Linked DNA regions of Homo sapiens: region 1 is linked to region 2. The links come from fine-mapping of genetic effects on plasma protein levels. Region 2 holds a variant in brackets. A gene starts in the other region. All regions are shown on their forward strands. Region 1 holds the start of RELB (RELB proto-oncogene, NF-kB subunit). Region 2 overlaps PER3 (period circadian regulator 3).

What was found. A credible set is the group of variants that fine-mapping cannot tell apart. PIP is the chance, under the fine-mapping model, that this variant and not a neighbour inherited with it causes the effect. Protein levels are from antibody-based Olink assays in UK Biobank. Linkage for the fine-mapping came from a reference panel and not from the study's own genotypes, which makes the PIPs less certain.
Region 1: RELB starts here. The variant in region 2 is the best candidate, but not a certain one, in a credible set for the plasma level of the RELB protein (UK Biobank, PIP 0.63).

The regions. Positions count from the first base shown.
Region 1 is chr19:45,000,161-45,003,063 of GRCh38, forward strand. RELB (RELB proto-oncogene, NF-kB subunit) reads left to right here and starts at 1,304. Exons shown (of 12, transcript NM_006509.4): 1 at 1,304-1,525; 2 at 2,789-2,836. The coding sequence starts at 1,420. RefSeq lists silencers at 1,128-1,537, 1,858-2,137.
Region 2 is chr1:7,794,631-7,797,533 of GRCh38, forward strand. The region is part of intron 6 of PER3 (period circadian regulator 3); the gene reads left to right. Among named protein-coding and RNA genes, the nearest start is that of PER3, 12 kb to the left of the region's middle. The variant T/C (reference allele first, on the strand shown) is at 1,656.

The DNA.
Region 1 (2,903 bases), not on the chromosome of region 2:
GTGTGAGCCACCGTGCCTAGCCAGAACACCCAAATTTTATACAAGCAAAGGAAAGACAACAAACCCTGCATCTGTGGTCTGAGAGCGCCTGGCATCCAACTTAGAACCTAATAGATCACCTAGTCGTTCTCAGGAATATGAGAGGCTTAGGAATGTGATCTAGCCAAATGGCTGCCCCTCTTTCAGCCTGAGTCCCTTCTGCAATAATCCTATCATATGCTTCTGGCGCTGGTGATAGGGATGAGCTCAGGGTTTAGGCACACAGCTCAGGATGTATACGGAGGCTACACTGCTGCCATTCGCAGACTGAATAACTGAGCTTTTGAGCTCAAAGTGGTCTGGGCTATTTATGGGTAACTTTCAGGGGCTGCAGGGAGGAACAAACCAATAAATAAAACATCCATGCATTCATCCAATAAACTTTTTTTTTTTTGAGATGGGAGTCTCGCTCTGTTGCCCAGGCTGGAGTGCAGTGGCACGATCTCAGCTCACTGCAACCTCCGCCTCCCAGGTTCAAGCTATTCTCCTGCCTCAGCCTCCGGAGTAGCTGGCATTACAGGCGCACACCAACACGCCCAGCTAATTTTTGTATTTTTAGTAGAGATGGGATTTCACCATGTCGGTCAGGCTGGTCTCGAAATCCTGACCTCGTGATGTGCCTGCCTCGGCCTCCCAAAGTGCTGAGATTACAGGCATGAACCACCGCGCCCGGCCTCCAATAAACATTTATTGGGCACCTACGGTGTTCCAGGCGCTGGTCTAGGCGTTGGGGTTACAACAACGCACAAAACATAAATTCTGAAGCTGACACGCTAGCTTTAAACGTTCCTTAAATATCTTCATCCTCAATTTACGGTTGAGGAAACTGAGGTGTAGCGAGACCTTGGAGGTTTCCGAAATATTATTATGGATGGCAGGTGTAGAGCCCTGCCAACCTCTCGATCCTGAAGCTCCCCTTCCAGCCTGAGAAACGGCAGGTTCAAGTCCCACTGGGAGACCAAAGCGGGGAGCGGCTCAGTTTGCCGGCTTGCTCAATGGGTAAGGCGTGATGGCTCTAAGCAGGCCTCAGTTGTCTCGTCCAGAGCAATGGGCAGCGACGCCTGCCCAACCCCTCCTGAGCGCCCAGCCTCCCTTTCCCGGCCGGCCCCGCCCCCGCGATCACGTGACGCGTGGGGGTTTTCCCGTTCCCCAGGCGTGACGTCACGGCGGGGTGCAGACCAATGGGCGCGCAGGCCGGCGGCGCCGGGGAATTCCGCCGCCCCGCCCCCGCCCGCCGCCCGCCCGGCCCGGCCCCGCGCCCCGCGCAGCCCCGGGCGCCGCGCGTCCTGCCCGGCCTGCGGCCCCAGCCCTTGCGCCGCTCGTCCGACCCGCGATCGTCCACCAGACCGTGCCTCCCGGCCGCCCGGCCGGCCCGCGTGCATGCTTCGGTCTGGGCCAGCCTCTGGGCCGTCCGTCCCCACTGGCCGGGCCATGCCGAGTCGCCGCGTCGCCAGACCGCCGGCTGCGCCGGAGCTGGGGGCCTTAGGTAAGCGGGGCTGGGGTTCAGGAGAGGGGTCTGGGGCGGGGCTGGAGATGCGGGGATTCTGGCGGTCCCGGAGTAGTCTGGGGGTTCCTATGGGAGTCTAAGGGTTTCGCGGGGGCAGAGTGAGGGTTCCTGAGACACTGTATTAGGGCGTAGGAAGAAGGCAGAGGGTGATGAGGGGGTACGGCCCGAGGTTCGAGCGAGGCGTCCCGCTGTAGAGTGAGAGGGGGCGGGGCCTGACCCTGAGGCAAAGAAGGGGGCGTGGCCTGACTCAGAGAAGGCGGAGCGAAAGCTGCTCTTGGGCGGTATCGGGGCGGGGCCGGGCCCAGAGAGGGAGAAGAGGGGCGGGATCCGACCCGGACTATGAGAAGAGGGCCGGGCCTGACTCAAAAAAGGAAGCAGGGCCCTACGCTGAGGGGTGAGGGGGCGGGGCCTGGCCGTGAGGGCAGGAAGGGGGCGGGGCCTGAGTTGGCCGAAAGAAGGGGAAGGGGCGGGGCCTGACTCTGGCCGAGTGGAGGGGAAGGGCCTGTTACCCAAAAAAGCAGGGCGGGGCCCGACACAGAGAATGAGGAGGGGGTGGGGCTTGCCTCCAGACGGAGAAGCGGAGCCTTGACATTGAAAAAATTAAAAGTGGTCTGACCCTGACAGGAGGATGTTTTTTTTTGTTTGTTTTTTGTTTTTTTCTTTTGAGATGGAGTCTCGCTCTGTCGCCCAGGCTGGAGTGCAGTGGCACGATCTAGGCTCACTGCAACCTCTGCCTCCCGGGCTCAAGCAGTTCTCCTGCCTCAGCCCCCCGAGTAGCTGGAATTACAGGTGCCCGCCACCACACCCGGCTAATTTTTGTAGTTTTACTAGAGACGGGGTTTCACCATGCTGGTCAGACTGGCCTCGAACTTCTGACCTCAGGTGATCCGCACGCCTCGGCCTCTCAAAGTGCTGGGATTACAGGTGTGAGCCCTTGTGCCCAGCGGGATGGGGACTTTTTAAACTGAGATTGAGATGGGGTCCCCTCCAGGCCCAACTTTAAGGGAGAAAAGGAGCGGGCCCTGAGTGTGATGAAGGGTGGGGCGAACCACAGAAACTAAAGGCCAGGACCTGTCCATGATTTAGCTGGTAAGCCTGGCCAGACGCAGGGGGGCAGTCAGGGCGAGGGGCCTGATCCAGAGGGGAAGGGCTAGAAGAGGAAGGGGTGGGGCTTCCTTGGGATATTCTCTGGTCCTCTGGCTGCCCCCCATCACCTCCTGAGACGTTTCTCCTTCTCTGCAGGGTCCCCCGACCTCTCCTCACTCTCGCTCGCCGTTTCCAGGAGCACAGGTGAGCAGCCCTCCACAGTTCCTGCCCACTCGCTCATGCAGGATGAGGTTGGGAGGACTCCACAGAG
Region 2 (2,903 bases):
TTTTGTTTTTCAGTCACATTTAAAATTAATTTTTGAAATTTTTAATAGCTTTAAAGAAAGCAAGAGATTTATATTTGTGAGAAGGATTTAAAAGATCTAGAGACAGTGAACCAGAAGAAAACAGATGAAAATTTTAACAGTAGTTGATTGCTGGTAGGAATTACTACTGAATTTTTTATCTTCTAAATTTGCTGCAATATATTATTAGTGTTCCTTTTATGTTATATACATAATATATAATTATATATTCTGTTATGTTATATATTATGTATATAAGATGATATAATAATATGTTCTTTTGTAATAAGAACAAATATTTTGAAATGACATTGTGATTGCCAGTTTTAGTATTGAAGTTACTAAATGCTCAAGATGTTTAGAGAGAAGAAAAACCCTCATGATGAAATAGTCTAATATTCCAGTACTCCATGGAACTGGGGGACTTGAGCTCATAGGCTCTGGATGCTTGGGGGGGACGGCCTGAGAAAGGGCACAGCGGTGGGAGGGGCTGTCTTGTTCCAGTGGGTCATTCACAAGTGAGTTGTATGAAGATCTTAGAACAGTTCCTGCCTCCTAATAAGTGCTGTATGTGTTTCTGATGTTAATTAATATTTTGGGGTGCTTTCTCTGAGCCAGGCACTTTGTCAGTGCTGGGATTCAAACAGTTCTTGCCTCACGTACCTTAAATTCTGTGAGGAGGAGACCAATAATAAACACATATTCAAATGCCTGTGTTGGCTGGTGATAAGTTGTGTGTAGACAGTAAAGCAAGGAGCGGGAGTTCTGGGAAGCGGGAGATTGCCGTTGTATTCAGGGTGATCCAGGAACTCTTAGGAAGTCTAATTGGAAACAGCGACCAGAAGGAGGGCAGGGGGTGAGCCACACCGGTATCTGAGGGGTGGCAAGTGTCTGAGAAAGTGTGTTCCAGGCAGAGGGAGCAGCAGGCGCAGAGGCCCTGGGGTGGGCCATGCCTGGCCTGTGGGAGGAGTGACACGGAGCTGCTGTGGCCTGAGTGGAGGAAGGAACGAGGATGGAAGAAGACGGGAAAGCACGGGCCACACCACAGGGAGCAGTGACTTCTGCACGAAGTGTTTTATTTCAGTTTATCACTTGCTTATTTTCAAAACGTTTTACTTTGGGAATTTTCAAACATAACACAAAAGAAGAGAAGATAATGTAATGAACTGCTGCGGTGTCATCACCCAGCTTTTTAAGAACTCGAACCCTGGCCAGTCTGGCGTCATCTCTGCCAGCAGCAGTTCTTTAACCCCCTCTTCCCAGGTTACCAGACAGCGTAGCTCAGATCTCGTCTGATTTCCTGCATCAGTATTTCAGAATGTCATTCTAAGAGAGGAAGTTCTCATTCACGTTTGTGGGGTTCAAAATGGTCCCATCTTTGGCCAGTAGGAATCCCTTTGGGTTGGCCCCTGTACCCTTGTGAGAGTGCCCCATGGTCTTTGACAGCTTCCATTGTTTTAAGCATGAGACACCCCAGACCCATTTTAGACATTCCTTAGCCCAGACTTGGCATCAGCCATTTCTCTAAGGATCCCTGGTTCCTTTTGGTGGGAAATGGCATTCACATTTGGAGGCCAAATCTGGATGGTAGGGATGGTTATTGCTACAGGGTTATCATTGCATCTAGAAATTTTCAG[T/C]GAACAGAGGTAGGAAACGTTCATTTCAGTTTCCTTTTTTTTTTTTTTTTTGAGACAGGATCTCACTGTGTCCCCCAAGCTGGAGTGCAGTGGCACGATCTCGGCTCACTGCAATCTCTGCCTCCTGGGTTCCAACAATTCTCCCACCTCAGCCTCCCAAGTAGCTGGGACTACAGGCATGCACCGCCACAGCTAATTTTTATATTTTTTGTAGAGACGGGGTTTCTCCATGTTGGCCAGGCTGGTCTCGAACTCCTGGCCTCAAGTGATCCAACCTCCTCGGCCTCCCAAAGTGTTGGGATTACAGGCGTGAGCCACCATGCCTGGCCCGGAAACAGTTTCCAATATGAAAGACTGGTGTTGGCTGCAGTGTTGAAGATACTTTGGAGGGGGAAGAAGGGAGGCAGGGAGGGCAGTTAGAGGCTGTTACAGAGGTACAGGCTATAGGCCAGCGTTCCGGGGGGAGGTATAAATATTTGTATATTCTGGATATTTTTTACACTTGATCTTAGCCAAAAGGCCAAGAAGCGATATTCTGGATATTTTTAGAGAACAAATTACCAGAATTTATTAATGGGTTATATTTGGAGTGAGTGTGAAGTAAGAGTCAAGGATAATACCAGGAGTTTTGGGCTGGAGTTATCATTTTTTGAGGCAGACGAAATTCTAGGAAAATCAACTTCCTGGAGGTGGAGAGAAAGAATGTGGTGCTTAGTTTTAGATAAGTTAAGTTTGTGATACCTGTTGAATATCCAAGTTGAGACTCTATGAGAGTCTGGAGTTAAGGAAAACTTTTAGGCTAGAGGTAGATATTTGGGTCATCAGCGTGTAAATGGCATTTAAAACCTTTGGACTGGATGAGCCTGGAAAATGCATTCGTGGATGTGGAGGGAAGCTGGAAGGTGTGAGCATGGATGTGAGCATGGATGTGGGTCGGCAGCACCGGGACACAGCTCACTTCCCGGTGATTCTCTTTTCTTGGTGAAATGGGAAGCAAGGTCATCAGTTGAGGGTGCAGAGTGGGAGAAGATTCTGTAGTGTGTGGTAGAAGAGAAAGAGCAAGGTGGGGCTGGGCGCAGTGGCTCACGCCTGTAATCCCAGTACTTTGGGAGGCCAAGGTGGGCTGATCACCTGAGGTCAGGAGTTTGAGACCAGCCTGACGAACATGGTGAAACCCCATCTCTACTAAAAATACAAAAATCATCTGGGCGTGGTGGCACGCACCTGTAATCCCAGCTACTCGGGAGG